Homo sapiens: one gene and its partner. The protein of the gene in region 2 purifies or fractionates together with the protein of the main gene of each other region. This does not show direct contact. Each region holds a gene or a part of one and is shown on either strand. Other genes may lie near its edges. The genes, in order: ANXA13 and MSI2.

Region 1 (15,787 bases), on a different chromosome or scaffold from region 2:
GGAAATGAGCAGAATGGGGGAGTTCTCCGGGCTGCATTCCGGGTGAGAAGCCTGAGGAGGCAGGTGTGGTGCTAACCCGGGTTTCAATGCCATCATCTGGGCATCTCTGTAGGTTGAATGGTGGGAGTTCCCCATAGTCAATGCTGAGGCACAGCCCCAGCCTGGGCATGGGAAAGGCTTATGCTTCAACTGTCATTCTCAAACTTGAGCACATATCAGTTTCACGTGGAAGGCTTGTTCAGATGCAGATTGCTGGATCCCATCTCCAGAGTTTTTGATTCTGTAGATCTGGGGTGGGGCTCCAGAATTTGCATTCCTAACAAGATCCTGGATTATACCAATGATGCGGGCCTGGGAGACCTCATTTGAAAACTACTGCACTAGAATACCTGACGTTAGACTCGTGGCTCTCAACTTTGGATACATTAGAATCATTTGGGGAGTTTAAAAATATACAGACGCCAGGGCCTTGCGCATGAATTGGTCTGGGAATGTAAATAGATATAAGAATTTGAACTCCAACTGGGCAAAACACTGATTTGTTTAAGATTTATTTAGAAAATGCAATGAATGCATTGATGAATTTATCCAAATTTTATTAAGCATCTACCATGCTGCAGGCATTGTGTTGGTGATGGGGATATATAGGTGAACAAAATACAATTCTACCTTCAGGAAACCATCAGTCCAGTGTGAGGCAGGTATACAAAACAGGTGGTTCTGTTGGGCACAGTGGCTCGCACCTGTAATCAATCCCAGCACTTTGGGAGGCTGAGGTTGGAGGATTCTTGAGCCCCGGAGTTCTAGACCAGCCTGAGCAACATAGGAAGACCCCCCATCTCTACAAAAAATTAAAAAGTAGCTGGGCGTTGTCATGCTCGCCTGTGGTCCCAGCTACTTGGGGGTATGGGGGTGCTGAGGTAGGAGAACCCCGAGAGGCTGAGGCTGCAGTGAGCAGTGATTGTGACACTGCACTCCAGCCTTTGCCACAGAGCGAGATCCTGTCTCAAAACACAAAACAAAAACAAAAAACCCAGATGGTTCTAAAACCACATGGGAGTGGAGTAATAGTTATGCAGAGAGAACTATGGAAGCCTTAAGGAAGAGCATCCAATCCAGCTTGGGGGGCAGGGGATGGAGAAAGCTCAGGGAAGGGGCTAAAGAGATGACGAGGTGATGATTCAGTTCAACAGTTTCAGAAATCCCAATAGGTTAATCTTCTATTTGGCGTAAAAAGAAGCTTTATTGAACCCAAGGCATAGTGTTAAAAATTTGTGCCTAAATCCAAATCTGTGCTTGACCTCTTACTAGCTGTCCAACTAGGAACAATTTACCTAAACTCTCTTTGCCTTACTTTCCCCATATTTAAAAGGGGACTAATAATAGTATCTCCCTGATAGGATTGTTGTGAAGACCAAATGACGTAACACATGTGAAGTGCTTGGTGGCGTGAAGGACTCAAACTTCCAGGGTCACTGTTCACACCCTCAAAACAGCCCACAGTCTAGTAAGCACTTTATAAATGTCAGTTATTATCATTAACATTTCAGAAGATCTCGTTTAAACTTCCAGTTACAACCATCACCACTGGGAGTTTTAGTTTTGGTTCCTGTTGCTGTGGCTGTAGCACTGGGAGGTGGGCTCACGCTGCTGGGACATGCAGGATTCTCTCCCCTGCACCAAGTGGCTCCAGACTCCCGCGGCTCTAGAATTCTTGTGTTGAGGTTTCATTTAACATGTTCTTCCTTCTATCAGTGTATCTGTCCTCTGCCGACTTCTTACCACCTCCTTACAATGGCTGGTTTGTTTTTTTTTTTTGCATCCACCATAGACAAAATATCCAAAAGGCCAAGATTGCATAATTGTACCTAAAATGTAGCTACCCTTCAGAGACTTGTCTTTAAATGAAGAAGGTATGCATTGGTGCATGTCATGCTTTGACATCAAAGGCCCTTTTCACTTCCTCCTACACTTTTGCAGTGGCATTCTGAAGGACTAACTTTCTGGGATAATAGATTTCCTGAGGTCAAGTGCAGTGGCTCACACCTGTAATCCCAGAACTTTGGGAGGCTGAGGTGGGAGGATCGCTTGAGCCCAGGAGTTTGGGACCAGCCTGGGCAACATAGGATGACCCGTCTTTAAAAAAATTAGCTGGGCATGATGGCACATGCCTGTAGTCCCACCTACTTGGAGGTCTGAGGTAAAAGGATTGCTTGAACCAGGGAGGTTGAGGCTGCAGTGAGCCATAATTGTGCCACTGCACTCCAGCCTGGGCAACAGAGCAAGACCCTGTCTCAAAAAAAAGTAATATTTCCTAATCTTATTTATTTAAGATGATCTTAAATAAATAAATAAATAAGGATCTTATTTATTTATTTAAGTCTTTTGAAATGATCTAGACTGCTTTCTGCTAGGGCTTGATCATGGGTCTTCTGGATTTGGGATCACAGTTTAATGCACACCCTTGGTTAAGACCATACTTATTTTAATTTCAAATTCTCAGCCATATTTCACCTGCCTCCAGAGCCTGTCTTCTTTTCTCAGGAATCTGGATCTATTTCCCCACTTGTCATGCAGCTTTCAGATGTTCTTTGTCCACGTTCATCTGAGTGTTCACCTTGCCTGGTGTTCACCTGCCACAAGTCCCAAACTGTTCTCCACTGGAGACAATATTTATGTTGGCTAAATATTGGCACAAGCAAGTCATAAACTTGGCATGTTCACAAACAACGTGGCAGACCACTGAACAGATGTTCTAACATTTACAAATCGGTTTTCAGTTAGGAGCATGTGCAATGACCATCTGCCTTTGTCCCCAGTGTGCAGAGCTCTTCTTGAAAGGTTAGCCATATTCTACAGTCCAGTGTTTCTCAAACTCTGCTGCACATTAGAGCCACCTGGGGAGCACTTACAAACCCTGATGCGCAGGACAACCACCAGACCAATTAATTCAGACTCTAGGGCTGGGACCCAGGCATCGGTGGCTTTTAGAACTCCTCAGGTGATCTCAATGCAGGCAAGTTTGACAACGCGTTCCATAGTCCAGTGCTTCTAAGATTTTAATGTGCCTGAAAATCACTTGAAGAGTCTGTTAAAATGCAGACTATGATTCAATAGATCTGAGTGGGCTGAGCATCTGCATTCCTAACAAGTGCCCACGCAATGTGGATGCTGCTACAAATCCAGGGACCATACTTTGAGTAGCAGGGCTGTAGTCCTTTCTATTGCCTGTTCATTAGCCTTGCAAGTAATTTCCCAGAAATCATGAGTCCATTTGAGTTTGTGATTATTTCCACATTTATCAATGGCTCTACTAGGTCTCCCTCCCTCTGTCATTCTGCACATATCCTATAGCCACACTCCCGTGGTAAAGTAATCTTAATATTGATCTCACTTCTGTATTTTTCCCTAGATAGTGATTCTTGTGAAAACCCAGACAATAGAAGAGTCATCTAGCTAAACCTAAGCAGATTTTTCCACTGATCTGATCTTTCTCTCTGTGTACACTCTACCTGCAAAGCTCACTGGACACAAGGACATGTCCTCCAGGATAAGGAAATTCTTTGAACATTGTGTGATTTGGCGGATGATAATGACCCAGTATCTTGGTTACTGCTGCTCCACATAGGTTAGTTACAAACACTAGGTCTTTGGTTCAAAAAAATCATTAATAGTGGCAAAAGAATTGAGGATAGCACAAAAGTAATTTTCGTTTCAGGATTGGTTAGGATTTCAGATGATAGTACCTTGAAAAATGCAATTTCCTGGCCAATATTCTACTGGCTCTGCAATAATAGTTGTCAATTATCTATGGGCCCTGGTCTGTGGACATATTCTTGGGGGAATAAAAACTTTTCTAGGAGTCTTTTGCATTTCATGCTGATAATAACTTAAAAATTAATATAAAGCATCCTAGATCATCAAGATGACCAAGTCCTGGCTCATGATTTAAATGTCTGCATTTGTGTTTGTATTTACGATTGTTTATATGCCAAACAGCCATACTTCAATAATTGCAGGCTAATGATGAAAGAAGAGTGAACAGAGGGAGATTTAATAGAAACACCATGTGTGTAAGCCGAGAGAAGGTCCCACGGCATTACAAGGAGGCTTACAAACAAAAGTGTCTCAGTAGGTTCAATAGAGAAATATGATAAAAGAACTCAGAAGTCACATACCACATCATATTTTAGATTTGCTGAGATTCAGAAAACAAACCAAACCAAAACAAAAACCAAGTAAAACTCAAAAAAAAAAAAAAAAACAAACCCAGCATTATAGCCATTGGGACCATTTCATGTTGAGCACAGCTATTGAATCTCAACAAAATAACATTGTCTATTACACTATGTTGATGACATACATTTAAACAGCATTGACTTATAACATTATCATTTAATTTATATATTTGTTTTGGTTGTGTAGCTGTTTCAAAACCACCAGCATTCTAGTTTTGTTTGTACATATTCAAGTAACTTTCTAATGCAAATAAGTTAAGCCATTACTGGGATAGTTTTTTGTTCTTTAAAAAGATTTTGTATTTACTTTTTTACATGTATTCATTCTTTGTGCACATGTTGAGTTCCTTTACTATTTTCTGAAATGTCATAGTGGTCCTGGTGTAGCCTCATGTGCTTGATTTCAAGGAGTTGTTAATGAGACACTGTTGGGAACAGAAACTAAGCCCCTAGAAGAGTTCATTTTTACATTACCTGTAAATACAGTAACAAACTTTTTGCAGGGAAAGATTTCCCTGCTTGGAAGTCACACCTGATGATGGCTGGTGGCTGGTGGAGGGTCCAACATGACAGATCACTGGGGGCTCATATTGGCCCCATGACAGAGCAGGGGTCATACCTATGATTTGGGGGGAAAATAAAGTGCTTACAGGCTGTGGGGCCTCTGGCTCTCCATTCCGTGATGGGTGGCTGAGAGGCTGCACGACTGTCGAGGGTTGGGAGTCCCCTTTAGGCAACTGTTGACTGCCTTCTGAGAGGGTGTACGACTGGCTCTGAGGATTAAAAAAAAATACATAAAAATGCTGGTCCACTCCTAAAGGCCAGCTGCTCCCTAGGTTGACTTTCAAAAGACAAAATTATCCTCCTAAGCTGTGAATGCAGGGTCCATTGATTATTCCTGGGGTCCTCTGCATCTATCAGAAATATTTGAAAAATAGGCTTCAGTTTCTCTGAAAGATACACTGAACGGATGGCTCATAATCTCTGCTGGTATGAAAATGCTATTTGTAGATGATTTGAAAAACAATGCCTTTCCTAAGAATATATTTGTAAGTTTGTAAACATCTGAGTGCAGCTTGAATATATAGCGAAGGAAAAACCTTATAGACAAAGTAACAGTTTACAGAAAGTTTTGGAGTTTTATTCTCTGCTCATAGTGTGCATGAAATATATCATTCTTGCTGTGGAAATTTACAGCAGGTACACAAAACCTTATTAAGATTTGTATTGGAATAGCTTTAGATATACTTCAATGTAAAAAATATTCAAGATTCAACTCTGATCTGTCCTGTGTGTAGTTGGTTCCAAAAGGTAGTGTTTTAGTCAGTTTTTAGTCATTAACTATTTATAGACACACTATTCAGGAGCCTAAACATTTCAAAAGAAATGTAAATTATTAAGTCCATTCCATGGATATTTGCAAATATGTGGATGTTTAGAAATAATAATGGAATATTTTCACCTTGCAATCCAAGTTGTGTGGACTTACATGAGTATTTACCTTGGTCTATTAATATTTGCAACATGAACCTATCTTTCCCACATAACTCTGAATGGGCTTAGTTTATGAAGTTTTATACAAATTTGCTACAAACTAACAGCTTTAGTTATACATTCTACAGATACATATTAACCATTTGCTCTCTGCAAGGCACTATTTACTGCCTTATTTTACATACTTCTTTCTCTTTAGCCCCTCTTAAGAGATTTTTGGCCAATAAGGGAATAATATATCCCCAGTGCTTTTTTTTTTTTTTTTTTGGGACGGAGTTTCACTCTTGTAGTCCAGGCTGGAGTGCAGTGGTGCAATCTCGGCTTATTGCAACCTCCGCCTCCCAGGTTCAAATGATTCTCCTGCCTCAGCCTCCTGAGTAGCTGGGACTACAGGCATGTTCCACCACACCTAGCTAACTTTTTTTTTTTTTTTAATTTTTTTAGTAGAGACAGTGTTTCACCATGTTGGCCAGGCTGACCTCAAACTCCTGACCTCAAGTAATCCGCCCACTCTGGCCTTGCAAAGTGCTGGGAGTACAGGTGTGAGCCACCGCACCCGGCCTCAATGCATTTTAAAAGCATGGTATGCTGTTGCTAAAACCAATATTAAAGGGTAACCATAGTGATAAAGTATACAAGTATCAGTCATGATTTTATAGTTTAAATTCTTCCACATGCTAACCAAAATTAAAACCAATTCCCAAAGGCAATGAGTACTTACATGACGATTGCCCATTTTCCTTTTTCTGAGATGGTTTTTCTGTATTTCATCAAGAGATCAGTCCTCCTACAGGCAAAGTTTACAACAGTTTTCCCCCCGGACATAATATCTCTTGTGTTTAATAAGTAACTTTTGGCACTGAATTTGAATACATTGTTGGGGATGGGTAGGGAGTGGCTCTAGCTACAGATAAACTTAGACTGCCCAGGTTTCCTTGGTACCCATGTTTTTAAAATAATATACTTCTTAATAAATAAAGTTTAGGCTTTTAAAGTTGAATAGCTTCTTCCCACCTAAAAGACTAAACCTGCCTCACTTCTGAATTGTTGAGTTATTCTTTCATATTCTGGTGTTCATTTAAAATATTATGCCTTTTAGTAATGAAAGCATTAACCAAATAGAAAAATATTACTATTTTTTACTAACATTGTTATTATTATTACAGAGAATTTTTCGAAGGCTACATTGCATTACACTAGATCATTTAAAAAATTTTACTGAGTTTTGAATTTAAAAAGTAATATGTGCAGATGGTAAATTTGTTTCTAATAATACATAAAGGTCCTGTGAAAAGTCGGCCTACTGACTTCCTTTTTCCTTCCCCCAGAGGTTTTCCGTGAGTCCTTCCTGAAGTGGTCCATGCATATTCAGCTATGTCCGTCGGTCTGCCTGTCTAGTTACCTACCTCTCTGTTTATCTTGATCCAACTTGTCTTTTCTTCCTCACCAAATGGGTTTGTACAATGTATTCTGTTCCATGCCTTGCATATTTCTTGTCTTTCCTTTTTTTTTCTGAGATTATTACAACATGTTTCTTTTTTTATTTGTACAAACTTATGTGGTACATAAGACATTTTGTTACATGCATATAATGAGTAGTGATCAAGTCAGGGTATTGAGAGTGTTTGCCTGAGTACAATAGATTTCTGTTGAGTACAGCCACCGTACTCTACTATCCAACACTGAATTTATTCCTTCCATCTTAGTGTGTGTTTGTACCCTTTAACCCACTTCTCCTCTTCCCCCGCAACTCACCCTTTCCAGTCTCTTTTCTCCATCTATCCACTCTCTACCTTCATGTGATCAATTTTTTAGCTCCCACATTTAAGGGAGAACATGTGATATTTGTTATAAGGGAGAACATGTGATATTTGTCTTTTTGTGCCTTGCTTATTTCACTTAATATAGTGTATATTTCATATACTAAAGAGATATTTGACACTGGCACATTTCTTTTTCAGTGGCCATGTAGTCAACTGTTATGGATATGAACCAAACCTTATTTCATCAGTCTACCGTTGAAGGTCATTTAGATTGTTTTTGATCTTTTGCATGAATATCTCATACACATCTTTGTTGTGCTTTCTTATCTGTAGAATAAAATCTTAGAATAGAGTTGCTGGCTAAAGACTATGTGCACTGAAAATTCTGATAGCTGTTGCCAAGTTGTCCTCCACACTGACATAAAATGCTGGACCACTCTTAAAGACCAGCTGATCCATGAGGCTTACTTTAAAAAAATGAAAATTTCACTCCCACTATATGAATATACCAGTGTGATTTTCCCTACATATTGGCTAACACTAAATATTGTCAAACTTTGTCATTTCTGCCAACTTCAAAGATAAAAACATGGTGTTTTATTAAATTTACATTTCTTTCATTTGATATCCTGGAAATTGTATATCCCATTTCTTTAAAGCCATTTGTGTATTTTTTTCTGTGGTTTGCTTGTTTGTGGTCTTTATTTTTCTTTTGAGTTATTAGTATTTTCATTATTTGTTTGTAAAACACTTTATTTATAATAAAATCTAGGCCTTCATGAAGTGTAACAATTATTTTTCCCCAGTTTGTTATCTTTTGTCTTTGTTTGTTTTGAGGGTATATATGTGAAGAAAGTATTAGCTCTGATGTATTCAAATATATCAGTCTTTTATTTTTGACTTGCTTAGAAAAACCATTTCTGCATTAAGATGCTTAAATCTTCTTGCATAAGTGTTCCTCCAAGTTCTTTTAATGGCTTAATTTTCAAAGGCTTATATCTTTGATTCATCTGGAATTGATTTTGACATACATTAAGGAAGGAAGGGTGTGTTAGGCTGTTCTTTCATGGCTATAAAGAAAGAACCGGAGGCTGGGTAATTTATAAGGAAAAGTGGTTTTATTTTGGCATATGGTTCTGCAGGCTGTATAGGAAGCATGGTGCTTCCTTTCTGGAGGGCCTCAGGGAGCTTACAATTATGGAGGAAAGTGATGGAGAACCAGTATGTCTCATGGCAAGAGCAGGAGCAAGAGAGGAAGTGCAGAGGTGCCACACATTTCTCAACAACCAGATCATGTGTGAACGCAGAGCAAGAGCTCTCTTATCACCAAAGGGATGGCACCGAGCCATTAATGAGGGATCCACCCCCATGATTCAACACCTCCTGCCAGGTCCAACATCCAGTATTGAGAATTACATTTCAACAGGAGATAGGGAGGGGACAAACATCCAAACTATATCAAAGGGAGTCAGCTTAGTTTTTGTTATTCAGTCAATCCTAGACAGTTACTGGATAATGCACTTTTCCACTATTGGTCTAAGATGCCACTTTTATTTAAAGCTAATTTCTTATGTAACATAGAATTAAAATTTTGTATAGGTTTATTAAATTCTGATTTTATATATTTATTATTTTGTTCTTTAAACTATTATCTGTTGAGTGCCTTGGATGTGCTAATTGTTGGAAAGACGGACAGGATGGATATGGATTTTCCCTTCCTAGAACTTGCAGTCAAATTTCTATACAAGAAACAAACAAATAAATAATTATAAATTGTCATATGGGCTATGGAGAAGATAAGCAGGACGCTAGAATAAAGAGTAACCCGTGTGTGTGTGTGCACATAAGAGTATGTGTGTGTGTGCACACGTGTGTGTGTGTGTACTTTGCTTTAAATGAAGAAAGGGCTTTTCAAGGAGCTCACACTGAAGCTGTGAATTAAAAGAAGGAGTTCATCATTTAAAAAGAGAAAGTGCTCCAAATTGGATGTTCTTAGCTTGTGCTAAGGCTCAACATAGGAAAGAGCTTTGTGAATTGGAGAAAATAAAAGATGTCATTGAGACTGGAGACTATTGGGTGCCACACAGGGTGCCTGGTGTGGAAATATAGTGGTGGGCAAGACAAACTCTCCTCCAGGAATTGACAGCAGAATGAGGGAGAAGAGAAGAAGATGTAGGTTAATGACCACTGCTTTGAACACTCACTATTATTTTTTCTTTAGTGTTGAATTTTTGTTTTATTATCCTCTGTCTCCTTTTGCCAGCCCAGACTTCCCAAGGCCACGTCCTCTGTGTCCCACCTCTGTGTCATTAACCACGTCCTTCAGGGACCCCTGAGTAGTGACATCTCAGAGGTCACAAGGGGCAGGGCAATTTGATGTGCAATGCTCATTGTAGAGATAAGTGCTGTTCAAGGGTGCTGAGTTACTGAGCACAGGAAATGCCTAGTTAAGGAAGAGATACAGTTTATGGCTCCAGGTGAAAGATAGACAGCTGAGAGGCAGGAGTGTCTTTTTACTTTTCAACATCTCTACCAGTGTAGACACCTATTGACTATTTAGATTTGGCCATAGTCAGGTTTTGATTTGACATAGATGGTGCTTCCCTAAGTGCCCCTCCTTTTCTCCTTCCTCAGGTGGATGGGTACTTAGGAAGGTGGCTGGGATAATTACCAGCAACAGCAGCAGTGGGGAAGGAAGGAACATTCCTGTGACCTCAGGCCATTTCTGGAAGGATGCATGCTTGGAGGCCCAGAGGGGAGAAGGAGGAAACTATCTGGGAAGGAAGTGTGAGAAGACACGATCTGGGTGAAGAGAAGGCACAAGACAGGTGGGAGGGCTTTTTGTATGGTTGTAAATATTTAGTGATCATAAATTATAACAGGTGCTGTGTAATAGGTTCCTCTAGTCAACTGGGCTACATCTGCTTTTTACATCTCTTGGATTTTGGTTCTCAAAGTCATGATGTTGCCCACCGATAGGGCAGCTGGTAATGTGTGTGGGAGTATTTGAGTGGCCATAATGAGTGGTGGAGTGGGAACTGGAGCCCAGCCTAGGGATAAGAAAAATCCTGCACTGCATGGGACAGTCCCACACAGCAAAGAATTGTCCAGTCCTCAAGCCAACGGTGTCCCACTCCCCTTGAAAGGTGGGAGACATTCTGCCTCTCTCACCTTCCTTCTATGATGGGCTCTATCGGCAGACCAAGAGTTTATGAACTTTTGTGGTGCTCCCGGGTCTTAAAATTCTGTAAAATCTGAAGTTGCAATGCTATGAGCTTAATTGTAGCTACTGGAAAAGTATGAAAGATGGAGAATGTGGGCCGGGCGTGGTGGCTCACGCCTGTAATCCCAGCACTTTGGGAGGCCTAGGCGGGTGGATCACGAGGTCAGGAGATCAAGACCATCCTGGCTAACACGGTGAAACCCCGTCTCTACTAAAAATACAAAAAAAAAAAAAAAAAAAAATTAGCCTGGCGCGGTGGCGGGCGCCTGTAGTCCCAGCTACTCGGGAGGCTGAGGCAGGAGAATGGCGTGAACCCGGGAGGCGGAGCTTGCAGTGAGCCGAGATAGCTCCACTGCAGTCCGGCCTGGGCAAAAAGAGCGAGACTCCATCTCAAAAAAAAAAAAAAAAAAGAAAAAAAGAAAGTTGGAGAATCTGTAAATGGACAAGGGGGACCAGAAGAGACAAATCACTTGGACCAACTCCTTCATTCTATAGATTAGGAAATTCCGGTCCTGGAAAGTGACAATATCTCACCCAACATCAGCCTGCTAGTTAGTAGAAAGAATGGTGGGATGAGATTCTATACTGCAGGATGTTCCGAAACTTACAATACAATGGGGTTACATCCGATAAACTCATCATAAATTGAAAATATCGTTAAGTTGGAAATGCATTGAACACACCTAATTTACTGAATGTCATCACTTAGCCTAGCCTACCTTAAACATGCTCAGAACACTTATATTAGTGTATAGATGGGCAAAATCATCTAACGCAAAGCCTATTTTATAATGAAGTGTTGAATATCTCATGTAATTTATTGAATACTGCACTGAAAGTGAAAAACAGAATGGTTTCATGGATGTCCGTAGAAGAAGGGGGAAATGCGATATGAAGTTACAGGCACACAGGGAGAAGGCCATGTGGCAATGGAGGCAGAGATGGGCATGCTACAGCTGCAAGCCAGGGAATGCCAAGGACTGCCAGCAACCACAAGAAGCCAGGAAAAGGAGAGAAAGAATTTTCCCCTGCAGGTTTCAGAGGGAGCACAGTCCTGCCAACACTTTGATTTTGGACTTTTTTTTTTTTTTGAGACAGAGTCTCACTGTCATCCAGGCTGGAGTGCAGTGGTACAGTCATAGCTCACTGCAGCCTTGAACTCCTGGGCTCAGGTGATCCTCCAGCCTTAGCCCTCCACCACACAAGTAGCTGGGACTACAGGCGTGCATCACCACACCTGGCTAATTTTCCGAACAATTTTTTTTTAGGGACTGGGGTCTTGCAGGAGGCGGAGCTTGCAGTGAGCCGAGATTGCACCACTGCACTCTGGCCTGGGCAACAGAGTGAGACTCTGTCTCAAGAAAAGAAAAAAAAAAAAAGAGAATGGGGTCTTGGCCAGGCGTGGTGGCTCACACCTGTAATCCCAGCACTTTGGGAGGCTGAGGCAGGCAGGTCATTTGAGATCAGGAGTTCAAGACTGGGGTCTTGCTATGTTGCTCAGGCTGGTCCTTGATTTTCAACTGCTCTCCTCCAGAACTGTAAGACAATAGATTTCTGTTGTCTTAAGCCACCAGTTTGTGACACTTTGTTATGACAGCCCTAGGAAACTAAAACACCTTAAACAGAAAGCAAAAATCTCATTGATTGCTGTGACAATCACAGCAACTACATTATGCTGTGTAATTTGCATTTAATAAAATTTCCATTTAGAAATACTTTGGGGAAAATATTATATGATATTAAGACTACAAGTAATTCAGATTCTCTTATAGTCATACAATATTAATTAAAATAAAAGCACATAAATGTTTATTTTCTAAATGCTGAACACTTGCCTGATTTTTCTTTCTGCAGGGAGAATTCGTAGTATTTTATTTATGTAAGGTAATTTAGCTAAAACCCCCAAATTACAGTTGATTTTGGGACAGGTACTTTCTTCCACATAGAAAAAGCAAAAATGTTAGGATTTCTGTCATGTTTGTGCATAGTCTCCCCTCGCCCCATTAGTTAATAAATGTCTAAGAGCAGAAACAGGACTATTGCTTAACTAATTCCCACAGTGTCTTCATATAATGCCTACTTTATAAAAGTTATTGCTTGACTAAGATGAAAAGACTGAAATCTGCAGGAAATCATTAGAGTCGCTGAAAGTATACTCCTATATTTTTCCAGTAGTAAAAACCCTGAAAGTCACACATTTCATCTTGCATGTACAAAAATAAAAATAACATAGAACAAAATGCCACCTGAAACTCATGGGTGTGTTAGCAAATACTGATTGTACATTTCCCATGTACAAGACACTAAGCAGAGTTACAGGGAATAGCAAAAATACAAGACACAGCTCTCACCCCACCCTTTTAGATGCTACGCTCTAGTTGGGGAAATGAAACATCCGTATAAGCAAAACCACATCTTAATGTAATGTTGCATTTTGTGGCAGAAAAACCACAGCCCTGGGACAGCAAAGCCCCCTGGATTTAGGGTGGTCTCTGCTACAACTTACGTGTGTGATCACATCAGAGTCACTCACTCTGTCCAGTTCTTGGCTTTGTACTATGTAAATAGAGCAGTTGGGCTTCATCTCTACATTTACCATGAACACTTTCGGTTTAGGAAGGTAGGTTGCAAGTGACTGAAAACTTGACTCACAACAACTTAAGCAAACAATTGAATTTTTGGCTCACATAATTGGAAAACGCGCTAGCTTCAGGCATAACTGGATCCAGCTACTCAAAATATATCCTGGAGACCCACTGTCTCTCTCCATCTCTCAAGTGCTTCTTTCCCCCCTCTCAAAGAGATTCCACATTTCAAAGGCAAGATATTGGCTTGCGGATCAATGTTTTCATGCTTAAAAATTCCAAAACTAGTGAAAAGGAAATGAGAGCTTTTTTCCCCATAAGTTTGAATACAGAACCTGGTGTGATTCTCTGGCTCACGTTGGGATTCATCCTCATCTCTGAACTTGTCACCATAGCTGGGGTGGGGGCAGGTTGTGAGGACCAGATTTCATGTCCTCCTCTAGAGCTGTGTGAGAAGTCAATCCCACCCAAACCATGTGGACTGAGAGTAGGGGAAAGATTGTCACCAGAGAAAATTGGGGTGCCCTTAATAAAAGAAGGGTGAATGTAATGGTAGGCTGGCCAAAAAAGAGATGTCCACTACAGAAGAGCAAAAAGAGAAAGAAAGGAGACAAGAGAGAGAGAGTTCATGAGGATGGGAGAAGAAGGTGGAAATGGTACCCCAGAGGCTAAGACCTGACATTAGAGACACTAAAAGGTGAGTAAAGTGCCCTTCCCTTTAGAGCTTCCATGTCCAGGAACGCCTTCTGTGAATCTTCTTGGGCTGACCTGCAGGTACCCAACATTCAATATCTGCTCGCGCACTCATGCAATTTCCACTTCTGACTTGCTCCACCCTGTGGACTTTGTCATCGTGAGCTTTGCTGGTTGGTGGAGGGCGGCGGGGGTTGGGGGGTGCTCCACTGTTAATGCCTCTGGGGAGATAAGCCACTGCTTAGGGCCCACACTGCAGAATTTCAGAACCCAGCACTCATTCATTAATGCACAGGTATTGGTTGCTAAGTGTGGGGTGTTACAGCACTGTGCTAGGCACCATGAGGCAGAAGACAGACAGGTAAAAAACAGAGTTCTTGCCCCTCAAGAACTTCAAATTTATGTGTGAGGAATAAGATATTAAAAAGTGCAATTGGAAGCCAAGATATAGTTAGGCAACAAATGACTGTTATAAATAAGGTAATTCACAGAAGTTGAAAAAGAAGAAATGGTGGCCAAAAGGAATAAGAAAGGCTTCGTAGGGGCATGGACTTTACCCTGGGATGTGTGGAGTGGCAAGAATTGGAAAGGGGTGCAGGGAAGGCATCATGGAGACAGCACAGGAAATGGTGAATGCCCTGGGGGAATGATGAGGAGGTGATCAGGAGTGTGGTGTGTTTAGGGGACAAAGGGAGTCAACGAGACTTGGAAATGAGGTTGAGAAGTTAATATTGATGAGAACGCCTGGACTAGGATGGTGGCCAAGGGGGAGCTGTCAAAGAGAACCCAAGGTTTCAAGCTGAAGTGACTGGGATTTTTGTGTAGGCATCTTCAGGGACAGGAAAATCAGAGAAGGAGCTGCTCTAGGTGAGACACATGGAAGCTGAGGTGCTCAGAGAGCCCCAAAGGAAGAGTTGAGAGGGAGGTGGAGGAAGAGGGATGAGCCTTGGCTGAGAAGTTTGGGACAAGAGCCGGATCAGAGTCATCACACGGTGGGTGTCAGAGCCTTGAAGGGGTGGATACGGTGGTGTGGAACATGTTGAAAGAGAATAGAAGGCTGGGAGCAGGGCCTTGGAAAGTGCATTTAGAGGTGGTAAGGAGAAAGAGGCCTTCAAAGAAGTCAGAAAGTTCATCAGAGAAAGTGATGAAATAAACACAAGATGAAACAAAATCACCACCAAATACTAGCCTCGTGGGATACAAGCTGTCTCCCTCGTGTCAGCCCTGACCTCACTGTATTGTCTTTCTTGTTCCCCAGTTTATACCTGTCCACCCGGGGTGGATTCCACAAGGGCAGTGACTATATCCTCCTCACCTTTCTCTCTCTGGAGCCTTGTATAGCACTTGTCATATGGAAATAATGGCCCTAGATGTACAATATGTCTTTGTTGAATGAGGGACTGGCAGGAACAAATTCTTTAAAAACCTTGTTTGGCTTTTGTTGCCATTGCTTTTAAAATGTGGCACATATACACCATGGAATACTATGCAGCCATAAAAAACAATGAGTTCATGTCCTTTGTTGGGACATGGATGAAGCTGGAAACCATCATTCTCAGCAAACTACCACAAGGACAAAAAACCAAACACTGCATGTTCTCACTCATAGGTGGGAATTGAACAATGAGAATACTTGGACACAGGAAGGGGAACATCACACACCGGGGCCTGTTGTGGGGTAGGGGGAGGGGGGAGGGACAGCATTAGGAGATATACCTAATGTAAATGACGAGTTAATGGGTGCAGCACACCAACATGGCACATGTATACATGTGTAACAGACCTGCACAT
Region 2 (15,799 bases):
GCCAAACTGACCTATGTTTGCCACATTTGAGATAATTCTAATGCTAATTCACCTATAAGGGATTATTCAGAAAAAAATCCCAACATTTAGATGCCACAGTACTCTAAGAAAAAAAATGCATTTAAAGTGGAAGATATTACAATTTTGAAATGAAAGATATTAAAAATTAAATGGAACTAAGTTCCATTTCTGGCAATATGGTAGACTAAGTAACTTGAAAATCCTCCCATCATAAACCACCTATAAATACTGGTCAGAATGTAATAAACACCCATTTAAATGAGCTCTCAGGACAGTAAGCAAAGGCTCTCAGAGTCAGGAAGAAGAGGGAGATTCTAGCATGGTATGCAAGTAAGCTGAGGTTGAGCTGGTCTTAGGCAGGTTTGCTGGTGTTGGGAACCTGAGGTTTGAGCATCAAAATAGGAAGGAGACTATGCTTAAGGTCCATTAAAAGTGGGAAAATGGAATTCAGAATTCCCATAAAGCTGGAATCCCATCAAGCTAGAACCTCCTGAATCACTAGAGAAATAATCACTGGAAAAATAATCTCCCCAATGTCACAAGGAAACAAGAAAATGTGCCTGTCTTTGCAGGGGTTGAGGGTGGGGAATAAAGGGCTTTACTGAGAATTTGAGATTATAATGTGGTATGGTCCAGGAACCCCAAAGCTGAGAATGAATACAGAAATACAGACCCAATGCCAAACTATACAATGTATGTGGATATAATCCTCCACAAGCAAGATGTAGCAGACACAAAGGTCCCAAGAACCTCAGGTAACAGAACTATCAGGCAGACTATAAAATAAGCAAATTGAAAATTATTAAAGACACAAAGAGGCCGGGCGCGGTGGCTCACGCTTGTAATCCCAGCACTTTGGGAGGCCGAGGCGGGCGGATCACGAGGTCAGGAGATCGAGACCATCCTGGCTAACACGGTGAAACCCCATCTCTACTAAAAATACAAAAAAATTAGCCGGGCGTGATGGCGGGCGCCTGTAGTCCCAGCTACTCGGGAGGCTGAGGCAGGAGAATGGCGTGAACCCGGGAGGCGGAGCTTGCAGTGAGCCGAGATTGCGCCGCTGCACTCCCGCCTGGGCCACAGAGCGAGACTCCGTCTCAATTAAAAAAAAAAAAAAAAGACACAAAGGAACCTTTGACACCATGAGAAAATAACATAACACTCTAAAAAAGGTAGATTTTAAATAGAACTAAATAGAATTTCTAGAAATGACAAATATAGTCACCAAAATGAAAAGCTCAGTGATGAGTTAAACAGCAGATTAGACAGAGTCGAAGAAAGAACCACAGATGGATCTGAGAAAATTGCCCAGGAAGCAGCAAAGACAAAGTGAAGGAAAGTCTGACAGATTCAGAGTGTGCTGGATAGAAGGAGAAGATGCATTATACATTTCATATAAGTACCAAAAGACAATGAGAGGGATACTTCATTTAGAGAATCCCAAGATTATGCATATACAATGAGTATTGAATCAGATAAAGAAGAAGAAATTCATACTTGAATATAGCAGAGTAAAAATGTAGGAAGCCAAAGACAAGGAAAAAGTCTTAAAACCAGAGAGAAAAGACAGATTACCTACAAAGGAATGACAATTAGACTCATAGCAAATGTTTCAGAAATAAAGAATAGGAAGACATGGTATATTCAAAAAAGTGCTGGGGTAAAATAACTGCCAATCTTGAGTATTACACCCAGAGAAATCATCATTCAGGAATGAGAGTGAAATATGACATGTTTGTCTTAGCGGAGAGAGCGTACCACTCAACAATCCCCTGAAAAAAACTAAAGGTATGTTTCAGGGGAAAGGGTCTATATCTAGAAGGAAATTGGTAAATAAGGGCAAATCTAAACGATGAATTGACTGTATATAAAATTACAATAGAGATTAAAATTAGGGGTATAAAAAGTAGGTGGATCTAAAAATAAGCAACAGTAAAACATAATGAGAGGATGTAACTGAAGTTGAATCATTCTTAGCTTATTGGATAGTTCTAGGGCATTTGATTTACTTTAGATCACATGTACAGGTTAAAATTGTAATCACCGAAAGAGTAGAAATAGAATTTACAACTTCCGGCCAGACACAGTGGCTCACGCCTGTAATCCTAGCACTTTGGGAGGCCAAGGCAGGCAGATCAATTGAGGTCAGGAGTTCAAGACCAGCTGGCCAACATGGTGAAACCCCGTCTCTACTAAAAATACAAAAATTAGCTGGGTGTGGTGGTGGGTGCCTGTAATACCAGCTACTCGGAGGCCGAGTCAGGAGAATCGCTTGAACCCAAGAGGCAGAGGTTGTAGTGAGCTGATTGTACCACTGCACTCCAGCATGGCTGACAGAGTGAGACTCTGTCTCAAAAAAAAAAAAAAGGCCTCGGCCTCCCAAAGTGCTGGGATTACAGGTGTGAGCCACCATGCCCGGCCAATAGCATCTCTTATACATTGCTAGTAGGAGTACAAATTGGAACACCACTTTGGAAAACAGCTTAGTATTACCTTGTAAAATTTTACATTCACGTATGTTACGACCCAGCAATTACTCCAAAGAGAAATTCTGATCTATGTGCATCAGAAGGTAAAAATGTTCATAATAACACTGTTTATAATAGCCAAAAAAAAAAAAAAATTCCTGAAAGCAACCCAAAGGCTTGTTTGTGAGAATAGAGAAACTAAACTGTGGCACAGTCACATAATGGAATATTATACAACTGGGAGAAAGAATGAACTACAACCTGATACAAAAATCTAATTTTGTTCCCCCCACCCCCCCAGGGCCCTGGCTAGAGGATCTAATTGATTCTTAATAATTTCATATTGAGTAAATTATCAAGCCTCAGAAATTTTTCATAAAGTTTCAAAACAAAAAGTAAAACAAAACAAATATTAGTCATTGATATGCATGATAAAACTTTTTAAAAAGCGAAAAATCATAACAAATACAAGATTCAGACTGGTGGTTACTTTAGAGGAACAAAATAGGGAGGAACACATAAGCAGATGTTACATAAGTCAAGTCATTGTTTCTGTTTTAGTTCTCTGGTTGAATAGCAGGTTTACAGGTATTCATGATATCAGCAAATAAAATAAAATAGGGCCATGAGTATACACAATGATGATAGTGTGTTATACTAGAGATTGTGACTAATATATTTTTGTGCCCCTAAATTGTGATATTTTGTGATCTTTAAAAATATCAGCAATCACAATAAATGTAAATGGACTAAACTTACTAGTTAGCACAATAATGAACCAGAGCTAACTATATGCTATTTACAGGAGACTGAACAAAAAATTTGGGACATGGAAAGGTTCAAAGTAAAAGGAAAGAGGGAAAGAGAAAGATCTATAAGTGAAGGGCTAATTAAAAGAGTAGTTACATTTATTACAGACAAAGTAGACTTTAAAGCAAAAGGCATTAGGGATAAGTATCTTCTGTGCCAATATTAAAGGAATAATTCCTAGGAAAATAGCAAATCTAAGCTCGTATGCACTGAATAACAAGGCCTTAAAATACACAAAGCAAAAAGTATGAGAAGCAGAAAATGTATAGTTACAGTGGGAAATTTTAACAGTTCTTTTTGATGCACCTGACAACATACTTTTAAAATACAGCAAAATTTGAGAGAATTACAGGAGAAACTGGCAAATCTAGTCATATAGAAATTTTAATGTACTTCTATAAAAACCAACAGGTCAAGCTGACAAAATATTAGTAAGGCTACAGGAAATCTAGACAATATAATTAATAAGTCTGATCTAATAGACCCATATAAAATGCTGTACTTAAAAATTAAGGCATATACATTCTTTTCAAATCTACATGAAATATTTATAAAAATTGACTGCACCAAAGCAAGTTTCAATAAATAACAAAGAATCTGCTTCATATAGATCACATTCTTTGACCTTAATTCAGTTAAGTTAGACGTTAGTAACTAAAGAATAACCTCAAATACCCCTCAAATACACCTGTATTAATTCACTAGTCAAACAAGAAATCGTATCTGAAATCTAATTTTTTTTTTTTTTTAAACAGGATCTCGCTCTGTCACCCAGGCTGGAGTAGTGACATGATCATGGCTCGCTACAGTCTCAACTTCCCAGGCTCAAGTGATCCTCCCACCTCAGTCTCCTGAGTAGCTGGGCCTATAGGTGCATGTTAGCACACCTGGCTAGTTTCTAGAAAAGTTTTCTTTTGCAGAGATGGGGCCTCACTATGTTGCCCAGGCTGGTCTCAAACTCCTGGGCTCAAGTGATCCTCCCACCTTGGCCTCCCAAAGTGCTGGGATTACAGGCATAAGCCATTGTGTCCAGCCTAAAATCTAAACTTTTTTTACCTCATTGGTGATAAAAAGTCTATATATCTTGTGGAATATAGCTTGAGTGGTACTTAAAGTGAAATCTGTAGTCTTAAATGTTAAAATCAGAAAACAGATGGCTAAAAATTAATTACCTAAGGCAACAATTCAAAAAAAAAAAAAAAGAGCAACAGAATAAATCCAAAAAGAGCAGAAGCAGAAGGGAATACTATATGATATATATTAATATTACATTACATATTATATTCTCACAAACTATATAATAGTATATATTTTCTATTGTGCCATATATAACAATATAATATATAATAATATATAAGAACAAAACTTACTGGAACAGAAAAAGAAACAATATTGAAACTAAAGTCTGGTTCTTTGGAAACACTAATAGAAAGTAGAAAGAAAACATTAGTAAAAAAAAAAGATCTCTGGCACAGCTGATCCAGATAAGAAAAAATACATATAAAATGATATTTAGAATGAAAAAAAAACATTATGGATAGATAGAGCAGAGATTAAAATACATTAAGAGATAACTATGAACAGCATTTTGTCAACACATTTGAAAACCTAGATGGTATGGATAATTTCCTTGAAAAACATAGTGTATAAAAATAGATTCAAGAAGAAAACAGAAAACCTGAAGAGATCTACGAGCATTAAAGAAATGGAATCAGTAGTTAAAAATCAACCCACGAAATGTCTATCCCAGACCCAGACAATTTACCTGCAAAACTACCAAACATTCAAGGAACACATAATTCCAATCTTACACACACTGTTCCAGAAAATGAAAAAAGAAGGAACATTTACCGGTTCATTTTATGAGACCAGTATAACCAGACAAAGGCAGTAAGAAAAGGAAAAACTGCAGCCAATTTGACTTATGAACATGAATACAAAAAGAATCCTAGAATGAAATTAAATGTTGGCCATCATTCATTCATTCATCCACTCACTCATTCAGTCAATCATTATTTATTGAGCGTCAACCGTGCGCCAGCAGGCACTGTGCTAGTACATGGAGAGCAGAAAGGCACGGGAGCTTCTGGCTTAGAGGAGATGGGCAATAAAGCAAATGATCATACAGGGTAAGGTACACAGAGGACGTTCTGGTAAGGTAACTGCATATCAAAGGGCATTCGACCCTGTCAGAGAGGTCTGGGAAAGATTTCCAGGCATGTAAGTGGAGTAAGGGTGTATGTGGGAAGACTGTTTTGTAAGCTGTTGCAGGGCCTCAGGTGGGAGATCTGGGATGCAGCAGCAAGAAAGATGGATTTGAACTTGGGCTTCCTTTAGAAAGGCTAAGTGGAGATGTTGAATAGGAAATTGACCAGAGCCTGGAGCTCTTCAGGAAGGGTGGGGCTGGAGATTTCAATTTGAGTGGCATCACCATGTGTTTAAACCCATCCTGGAAGATTGAGTTTGAAGAAGGAAGTGTCCAACATTGTCTTGGGCTGTTGAGACTTTCAGAGGGTTGAGGACTGATATTGTGCTGCTTGAATTCTCCTGATGCAGGGGCTACATTGAGTGAGCTGGAGAAAAAAAATGCATAAAATAATAATAATAATAATAATAATAATAATAATAAGCTATTACAAATAATGTAGAGCAAAGGGGCAGCAAGAGGGAATTTTTTTGGACAATGAAACTGTTCTGCATCTTGATTATGGTGGTGGTTACATGACTCTATACATATGTCAAAACTCATAGGATTACAGACCAAAAAGAGTAAATATTACCGTATATAAATTAAAAATAAATGAGTAAAAACAATGTAGTAATGGAGACTTAAAATCCAGTTCTTTCTAAGCCCTGACTTTGTAACCGCAGCTCTAGCCCCTCTCTGGATTTTAAATCAGTTCTATAAGTGTCAGCTTGTGGAGGTCTATACCAGACAGGAAGGGCCCCCAACTCTCGCCTTGTGAGGGACAGAATAAACACGCAGGCAGCAGAGGCCACACGGCATTGGACTGATGGTCAGAGGGTGGGGGTGGGGTGTAGCCTGGTGAGTTTGGCACCTCTGAGACGCTGATGTATAATGAGGGGATTAGATTAGGAAAGGCCTTTCTACCTAGGATGGCCTGTGGTTCTACTGTAAAAATCCCAAACACAATACAATTAGCTCTGTTGTCTGCATTTTGTTTAGAATAATCAATCATAATAAACAATCATTGTAACAACTGGCTGTTCAACACATGAGACCCCAGATGATTTGGGAAGGAGCTTGGAGTGACAGGAAATGTTTGGGTTTGTGGTTTAAAGCCTTAGAGCACCTTCTCAATATGATTATATTGAGTAGTGATTGATAATAAACACGACTCAGGTTTACAGTGAAAAAGGAACTTTTACAACATTGGTTCACTTCAGCCTCTCACCTTCACCACATCAATCCTGTCAAGGAGGAATTACTGCAATTTAGGGAACAGGGAGACTGAGGGTCTGGTCACTCAAGGCTATGGCTGGTGTTGAGATTTTCCCAATATTCCATTTTTCCAAAGCCCACAGTGGATTTGGTTCAGTTTTGGTGTTGAGTGTATTCCTTTGTCTCCTAATCCTATGAAAATTAATGGAAAAGTGTTAATTGGGCATCAATTCATGCTTAACATTAATCTCAGTATTTGATGAACCACAACTTTATGTTGCCCCTCATGCCATATTAACTCAGTTTATTGCAACAATTTAAAACGATACAGATTTAAAACAATATGGGTAATTGTATCCGTATTGTTTCAAATGCCCCATAAATTGAAACCAGCCCGAATTTGGGCAGTCTGGAATCTGCCGGAGAAACTTTCATGCGATGCCTTTGGAAGGCTACAGACATTGTCTTTTTGGAGTTTTCAGTGCATGAAGGTATGAAACCGCATTTATTAAGCACCTACTGTATGCCAGAACCCGTGCTGCACAATACTACTGCTGCTAAGGTGGGAGTGATTCTGAAGCCTTCTGCCACCCTAGCTACCTCTGCAGGTCGTGAGGGGTCTTGGGCTATTTCAGTATCATGCACTTTACTATCCTGGCATACAAAGGCTGGGTGAGAAATAAAATATATAACGAACGGATTACACAGGGGTTTCCTGAAATAACCACCCTTCCCATCCATCCCAGAGACACCCCAAAAGTACTTCTCGTTATATACAAACATTTGCTTTGAACCTCAATCATGTGACCTTGACTCCTATAACCTATCTTATTACATTTTTAAAACACTGTATGATTAACGCGGAAACCCTTTCTTCGGCACTTTCTCGCCACTGGAATCGCGTCAGTTTCTCAAAGTTCCAAAATAACCTTTCCCGGGCACGGATTGGTACCTCTACTGGGGAAGGGCGGGGAACCGCGCAAGACGTGCCGGTGTGGAGCCAGAGCCAGAGAGAACTTCCAGCGCAAAAGGAAAATAAAACTTGTGGCTGGTGTTTGTGCAGGAGGGTCTCCGCCATCCTGAAGCCCCCCGATCCTGGGGCGTCTCGGGGGCCGCCAAAGGAGCGCCAGGGTGTGGGTTTGCTCCCGACGTCCTTGACCTAAATTTCTGAGCGGTGGCTGGAAACAGGGCACAGCGGAGGGCGGGCGGCTGGTGCCATTCCCGGATCTCGGCGGCAGGGGCCGGCAAACTTGAATGGAGAGGGCGAACTAGAGAGGGTGGGGGGCGTCTTCTCCCAGGTCCGGGTGAGGAGCCGCAGCAAGCTCCCCGCGCCTCCCCTCCCCCGATCCACCCGCCCCCCGCAGCCCATGTGATCCAGGGAAGTCGGGGTGCGCTCCCCCTCGCCCTGCGCCCTGCCGGCCCGGAGGCGGGGTCCCCTCCGCCCGCGGGGTTCGCGCGCCACCCTTGTGGGTCCGGCCGTGGGGGGCCGAGTGTGCGCGCGCGGGCAGGCGGGGGCCGCACGGGGGTGCGTGACGTCACCGGCATTGGTTACACGACGTTCTAGAACTCCGCCCCACGTGCGCCGGGGAGGAGGGGGAGGAGGAGGAGGAGATGGGGGTGGGGAGGAGGAGGGGGAGAGGTGGGGATGGGCCGGGGGGGCGGGGACGGGGGGGTGTGCGAGGCAGCGGGGCTGAGCTAAGCCGAGCCCACGTGTGACGGCTCTCGCCGCTGCCCCGGCTCCGCCGCTCGCAGAGAGATTCGGAGGAGCCCGGGCGGGGGGGAGGAGGAGGGGGAGGAGGGAGCGGAGATCTCGGGGCTCGGAGCCGGCCGCCGCTCCGCTCCGATCGCTGTGGGGCTTGGTTTTTTGGGGGTGGGGGGGCGGGGGGGCTCAGATATGGAGGCAAATGGGAGCCAAGGCACCTCGGGCAGCGCCAACGACTCCCAGCACGACCCCGGGTAAGTTTCCAGCCGCTGCCCACCGCGCCGCCTTGGGCTCGCTCTCCTTGCAGCGGCGGGGACGGCGGTGCGCGGAGCCGGGCATCTCCCGCGCCCCCCCGCCTCTCCCGCGCGCCCCCCCCGTGGAAGTTACACACCTTTGGATTGCATTTCGCCGTCACCTTCTCCCCCACCCCACCTCCCGGCTCTCGCTCGCTCGCTCCCCCCCGCTTTCCTTTTAGCTTTTGTAAGTTACACGTCAAAATGGCCGATCTGACATCGGTGCTCACTTCTGTTATGTTTTCTCCCTCTAGTAAAATGTTTATCGGTGGACTGAGCTGGCAGACCTCACCAGGTAAGGGAGGGAGGGGGGGACGCCTGGGTCCCCCCCTTCTTGGCTTCTTTATTGCTCTTTGTTATCCCGGTGTAGGAGCCCCCCCCCCCCCGCCATTGGCTCCCCACTTCTCCTGTGCAAGGTTATTTTTTTTAAATAGCAAATCCTTTCTGAGCCCTCTATGCGACCTCTGTTGCCGAATTTCCCCCGCGTGTGCAAAAAATGCAAAAACAAAACAGAATAACAACAGAAAACTACTTTTGGATTTTGTCCTTGATCAAAATTTGCATTGCTTTTTTTTTCCACACCTTCTCTCCCCCCCCCATCTCTCTCTTTCTCTCTCTACAGATAGCCTTAGAGACTATTTTAGCAAATTTGGAGAAATTAGAGAATGTATGGTCATGAGAGATCCCACTACGAAACGCTCCAGGTAAACCATTCCCTTCTGGATTTTGTCTTTATTTTAGAACAAAGTTTAAGTTTTATTTTTGGAGGTGTCTTCGGAAGTAGCTAAGCGGATTAGAATGGGGCTCAGGCGCGTGGCTGATCTCGAACGGCGCTCTATACCACCCCCACCGCCCCCTAGTAACCCCAGAGGTTATTGTTAATTGGAGCTGAACTCTGGATACAGAGATACCCATCTCTCTGCTTTTAAGTCATTTTCCCGTCGCTTCTTTTTCTCTGTTTAAAATGACATTCAGCTTCATTTACTTTCGCATAGTTTTTTTTTTTCTTTTGATCTTAATGTGTGTTTCCCCCACACTCCCAGCTCCCCAAACTCTTAAGATCCCTCTTAGAAAGATGGTGGTAAATCTCTTCTAAGTGCCGGGCTTTCTTCGGAATAAAACAAAGCGTTAAGAAAGGGAAGGGGAGGAGGAGAGGAAACTGAGGTGGCCAAAGAGTGGAGGCACCAGCATTTTCCAAGTTACCTCCACCCTCCCTGCCCCCGTTCCACTTCCCCCGTTAACCTTGATGTTTTTTCTTGCGAGGTGGAGGGCTGTAGGCAGGAGGGGAATTGGAGGAGGGGAGTGGGAGGTGGGGGTGCGTGGGGGGCAACTTTTGCTCCTCATTCAGCCTTAGGTCTCACTCCTGGTTGCTTTCAATGGTGTCACATTTTCTTGTTTGTTTTTCTCCCTCTTTGTCTCCTTTCAGAGGCTTCGGTTTCGTCACGTTCGCAGACCCAGCAAGTGTAGATAAAGTATTAGGTCAGCCCCACCATGAGTTAGATTCCAAGACGGTAGGTTGCTTTTTGTTGTTGTTGTTCGCCCCTTTTCAGGAACGATCTGGGCATTGACAGCCCCATTTAAAGGGACAGTGCCTTCTTTTGCTTCTGTGCTAGAACTGGGTAGTTTTAAACTGAGCTAGCGAGTTGGCTCAAAAGTTTGCTGCTGTGGCTGGCTTTGGGGTTTTCTTTTTAGAGCCTGTCCCATTGCAGCTTCAGAGGCTGCCAAGGTTAGGCTTGGGGAGGAGAGGGTTCGGCTCCTGGAGAGTCTGCCTTCCCGGCCTGGGGACTGTGCAGAGAAACTCCACCAGAGAGCAAATGCAACTTTTCTTTGTCAGCCAAGCACAGCACGCGTTACCAACTGTGGCTGTGGGGATCAGCTTTGAGAAGGCACAGCCTGCTTTGTGGCCAAGGGGGACAGCAGTGGGAAGGAGGGGAGAGGGCGCTAATTACAGGTCCAGGCAACAGGTTTCTCTTGGGGCACTTGGGATTTGGAATGTGCTTTGGGAAGGGAAGGGGACGCTGGCGGAGCTGAGCTGGGCATCCACTGGGGTGACTCCAGATGGCATGAAATCTAAGGCTGATAAGGCCTGGGGGTTTCAAAGTGATTTTTTTTTCCTTCCTTTTCTTTCTCAGATCCTTTCATTTGAGTATGGGTACTTTTATACATCACAAGTTTTAAAAATCCAGAGTAGAAGGGGGAAGAGTCTCCAGGCAGAGGTCAGAAGGGGAAGGGAAGAAAGAGTGTCTGTATATAACAATACATTTAATGGGAGGGGGAGTGTGCAGTGTTTTATTTAGCCCCTGTGTGGGCTTCCTGCCTCTCCTCCCTTCCCTTTATGTCTACCAGAGTTTCCCCACGGTTTTTATTAATATATATCTGCCCCAAACAGAGGCCTTAAGATGACATTGGGCTGTAGTGCTGGGTTGCATGGAACTTCACTCCTCTGTGATGGGGTAGTGGGACAAGGCCAGAAATGGGGCTCTACTTCCATCCGCCTCTTATGAAAGTGAGCAAGACATTCCCTACCTCTGGGTCTCAATTTCCTCTTCTGTAAAATAAGTGGACCAAGGTGATCTTTCAAGCCCCTTTTGGCTTTAACATTGAATGGAAGAGAAGGAAAGCAAATAAAGAAACCTGGCAACCTTCGGTGCACTTGAATTGATTTTGCAAATTCACCCTCTTTCTCTGATCAAAGAGATCAGGAATGCGTGCCTTCTCCTAAGAAAGAAACCCACCTACACTCTTAGTTGCTTTATTAATTGTCCTGGACTTGTCATAGCTTGCATGCAGCCCAGCCTTTTGTACTTTTAGATAATTTAATTTCAGAAATGATTTGTAGGATGATAACAGATGTCTGAAAAATTTTTCTCTCCTTGATTTCGTGGCTAGCCATTTCAAAAAGCTAGTGAAATTAAAGAGGAAAATCTTTTCAAGGCAAATTTGGGAATTTATCATCCACCCCCTCTTGCTACCTGGGTGGGAGAAACAGTATTTGGTTTCTGTGGTGGCTGGTGGGTCATATTCCTCTGTATCAGGTGCAAAGCCTGCAGTTTCCCTCTCTGATTGTTTATAGACATGTTTTGGTCACTATTATTTAGTGTAACCTAGCTTTTGACTTTGTTTCAACGTTCAGTGCAGGAGGCAGAAGCGGTTGGTTTATTGACATGGAAACGAGGATCTTGTTTACTGTTACCTTAAAAGCTTTGTTTAGGTAACGGCCATTCACATCCAAAATAGTACCCTAGTCTTTTCCTAGAGGACTTGTAGATACAGTAAGTAGAGCTGTACCTAACTAACTAATGTTTTAATTTTTGGTAGTTTTCTTTTTTGTTTGTTTTTTAAAAAATAGTTGACAGGGATGTGCAAAAGGTTGGGATTTGCCATGCTTAACTTGACCCTTCCTCTCCTTCAGAGATCTCAGCGTGTAAACTTTGCACACTGAGGAACTTCGATCATGATATAATGCTCTGATACGGCCACACACCATCCAGGAGTTCTGAATTGGCTTTTTCGTTTTGTGATTTAAATTTTCTTTAGTACTTCACTTTCTTCATTGCACCTTACTTCTTCCAGCTCCTGGCACCTCCCTCAACATACCCCACACCTGTTACCCCATAAACAAGGTGATTTCTGATTGCAATTGTGTGCCGGCCAACTAAAAAAAACACCCTCTGGGGAGTATTTATAAAAAGACACCTCTGTCTTACGTACGTCAACAGAATGGAAAATCCACACCTGTTGTATTTCTCTTGTAGACAAGCGCTAGTCAGTGCTGGACACACCTGTAGATGCAGTAATGTTAATCTTTATGAAAGGGTAGTTTTCTAGATCAGAGATTTTTGTCTATTTTAGTTTTTGAAAAGTAATCTCTCATTTCTCAGGTGATGTTTAAAGGTAGGGAATGCAATGCAGACTTTTATTAGGTCTTTAAGCCCCCGTAATAACAGCAGGAAATCCTCATATGTCTTTCTGGCTGGGACCCTAGGTGATGTAAGTCAGGGAACAAATGAACTATCCTCCGTGCTTCCCACTCCCCACCCCCACCTCCCTACTTTCCTCCACAGCATTACTCTTTTCTCCCCTGCTCCTTCTCATGGCAGAAGTGAAAACAAAGCTCAGATTTACTTTTTAAAAGGAAAACATTTTAATATGAAAGCCAAAGCCTGGAAATAAATAACTGGTAGCATGTTTATACTATCTGTGTTACATTTTTACCCAAAGATTTGTGACATTTAGAAATTCAATGAAAACCGACAACGGGAATATTTTCACATTTCTTTCCTCCTCTTTTTATCTGTGCAGTCACTTTTTTCCTCCCTCACATCAGCCTGTTAGATTCACATGCTTCCAGGAGAACTGTTCTGAGCTGTACAGCTAGACCCTGATTGAGCATCATGCGTTTTGCAAGTGTGTGATTTGGACTGGAGGATGTTTTTCCACTCGGATTGAGGTTGGGGTAGGGGAATTCCCTACTTGTTGCACTAGATTCTGACTACTTCTTGTATTCAGTAACTTTTTTTTTTTTTTGGTGCCCTCCCCATGATGGGATTTCTTTTCTAATTTGGGTTTAGGTTGCTTATAGATTTTTACTCCCTGTTGTTTTTAAAATCCAGGTGGATTTAGCTCACATGCTTCATTTTCTTTACTTCAAAAAATTATTTTTTATCTTTTGAGGTATAGCTACAGAACAGATGATCTTTTTGGTTAATCCTGGGTAACTTTACTTTTGCTAAAATGAATTAATTAACTCAAGCAGAGCACTGTGTTGGATGTCTGTGGGGAGTTTTTGGATGTTGTTGATTTAAAAAATTTTTGGAAGCTCCTTTCCCTCCTGTGTTGTTTAGTTATCATCAGGGAGAAGAAATACCATCCAATTACCTACTGCTAGAGAATACTTACATTTAATTTTCAGGTTATGATTTTTTTCCCAATGATAATGATGCTCCCATCTTTTCTCCCAGCCACGCATAGCAAATTAGATGTAGATACCATTTAATATTCAGTGTCTGGAAGAAGAAGCCCTTGCCTAAATAAGAATTACATGAGATCTGGTTTATTAAGAGCATCACACACTGAAATGCATGGTGGGTCATTTCAGAAAGGCTAGCTAGCTATGTTAGTTACCTGATCTGTTGGAGGGATGGTTAAAGTTGAGATCAAAGTTTAAGAAACTTTTGAGTTGCCTGAGAAGTTACTAAAAGCTGGATTATAAGCCTGAGAAATGAGTGATTAATAATTAGGTGATTAATCATATATTTTTTCCTTAAAGTACTTTATTGACTCCTGCTTTTCTATTTTTTTTCCCAGATTGACCCCAAAGTTGCATTTCCTCGTCGAGCGCAACCCAAGGTAAGTAGGAGAATAAACAGTAGGATTTTAGCACTCAGAGATGATTGCCAAGAATTTCAAATTTCAAACAGCATTGGCCATGAACTGTTGAAGCCTGGTATTCACTGTTCCTTCGGGGTATCAGGACAGGCTGGGCAAGTAGTCCTGTGAGATAACCATGCGTCTCTAAGTTAGCCATCCCAAGGTGGCTTCTGAACATCCACCTGGGGGCAGGGACAAGTCTGATGCTTAGTGGGAGGACGTGTTTCCATCGACTGCAGTATTTTTTGCAAGGATTCTATTTGTTTTTTAAGCATTTCCAATATCATATCAGGAAAAGTCGAACATTTCCTTGTGACTCTTTCGGAGGGTACTCTTTGAGGCTTTACAACTTGGAGTTAATGCAGAGGAGTAGAGTTTGACTAAACAGCTGATCCTTTCTTGGAAAAGACAACTTCTTAGGCCCATAAAGCCTTAAATCTGGGAGGGCAAGCAGTGGATATCTTGGTTTTAGGTTGGTTGGATAAGTCAGGGCATACTTGAAACCAACAGTGCTTCTTATTTGTGCAAGTGCTGGTGCCTGGGTGGAGAAGTCCTGAAAATGTTGTAACCTTGTAGGAGTGGCACTACAAGACTTGCTTAAAGAATTGAGATAGGGCTTCACTTTTTTAGAAGTGTGTCGTTAACATAGTTTTCACTGAGCTTGCCAGGTGTGGCTATGAGAACACAGTTGCTTGAAGCCTAAGGTTAAATTGGAAGGGCTTATGGCTTACATGTTACATTTACACTTTTTAGTTACTATTTTTCTTCCTTATGTAGCACTGGAAGAAATGCTTTTTATGTATCTTCGGGATTTGTCATTCTTTTAGGGAAAGGGGAAAAGTTGAAGCTTCTAAGTCGGAAAAGGTTGTGGCTTTAGCAAATTCAGTTTATTTCTTTATGCACAGTCTCCCAGAAGTGGAACCTTTTAATCGTGTAAAGAGAGGAATGGTTTTGCACATTAGTATAGAAAAAGTTGGTGATTGTGATGGTACTTTGAGAATTTCAGGTCTGGGGCATACCACTTGATTGATTGATTCCTTCCTTCCCTCCTTCTTTCTCTCCCTCCCTCCTTGTTCTCTTCTCCCTTTTTTAAAGATGGAAACACAACTTTTTAAGTAAATACAATGAAATATTTTCTTCAGGCATTTTTTTGTAATGCTTAAGCAAATGATAGGAATTAATGATTAGGTTATTTTTGTACTTAGCACAAACTTTGGAATTGCCCTTATTGTTTTAGTTACTTCCCAAACTGTCTGTGATCCTTCACATTTCAGAGGGCTTCCCAGAGTTAGCAGTATTTCCTGGGTTTGGAGGAATTGCTGTTTCTTCCATAAGTGTGAATCTTCAAATTTCCAGGTTAGTCATTTGATCACTCAGAGCTTGGATCAGATTACCCAAGAGGGAAGCTGGAAAAATCCCTTACTTGGTAAAACCATGGGTTTGACCTGTTTTTCTCTCCCCTTTGTTGTCCCCCTTCCTTAACTTTGTTTTTAAATGAGAAAAGCAATATTTCACTTTAATACACTCTGCAGTGATGCATTCAACTTGAAAACGAGACAGAATGTTTCTCAAACTTGTCAAAGTGTGCATTCCTTTCCCAACCCTCAACTCCACATCTGGAATGTTTGTAGGTGAATTAACATGAAACCACTTGGGGGAGAACATCTTTCCATGAATTCTAGGGATTTAATAATAACACCTTACTGTGTATGACATACTTCACTTTACGGAG

The links.
Region 1: the proteins of MSI2 (region 2) and ANXA13 purify together in Homo sapiens (affinity purification with mass spectrometry; 3 studies listed by BioGRID and IntAct, with this or other methods). This does not show direct contact.

What each region holds. Positions count from the first base shown.
Region 1 is NC_000008.11:123,730,867-123,746,653, forward strand, and holds the start of ANXA13 (annexin A13), read right to left. Parts: upstream 6,528-15,787; 5' UTR 6,469-6,527; coding exon 6,454-6,468; intron 5,012-6,453; coding exon of another isoform or gene 4,889-5,011; intron 1-4,888.
Region 2 is NC_000017.11:57,248,147-57,263,945, forward strand, and holds the start of MSI2 (RNA-binding protein Musashi homolog 2), read left to right. Parts: upstream 1-8,376; 5' UTR 8,377-8,596; coding exon 8,597-8,658; intron 8,659-8,795; exon of another isoform or gene 8,796-8,850; intron 8,851-8,872; exon of another isoform or gene 8,873-8,901; coding exon of another isoform or gene 8,902-8,951; coding exon 8,952-8,992; intron 8,993-9,319; coding exon 9,320-9,401; intron 9,402-10,123; coding exon 10,124-10,208; intron 10,209-14,004; coding exon 14,005-14,046; intron 14,047-15,799.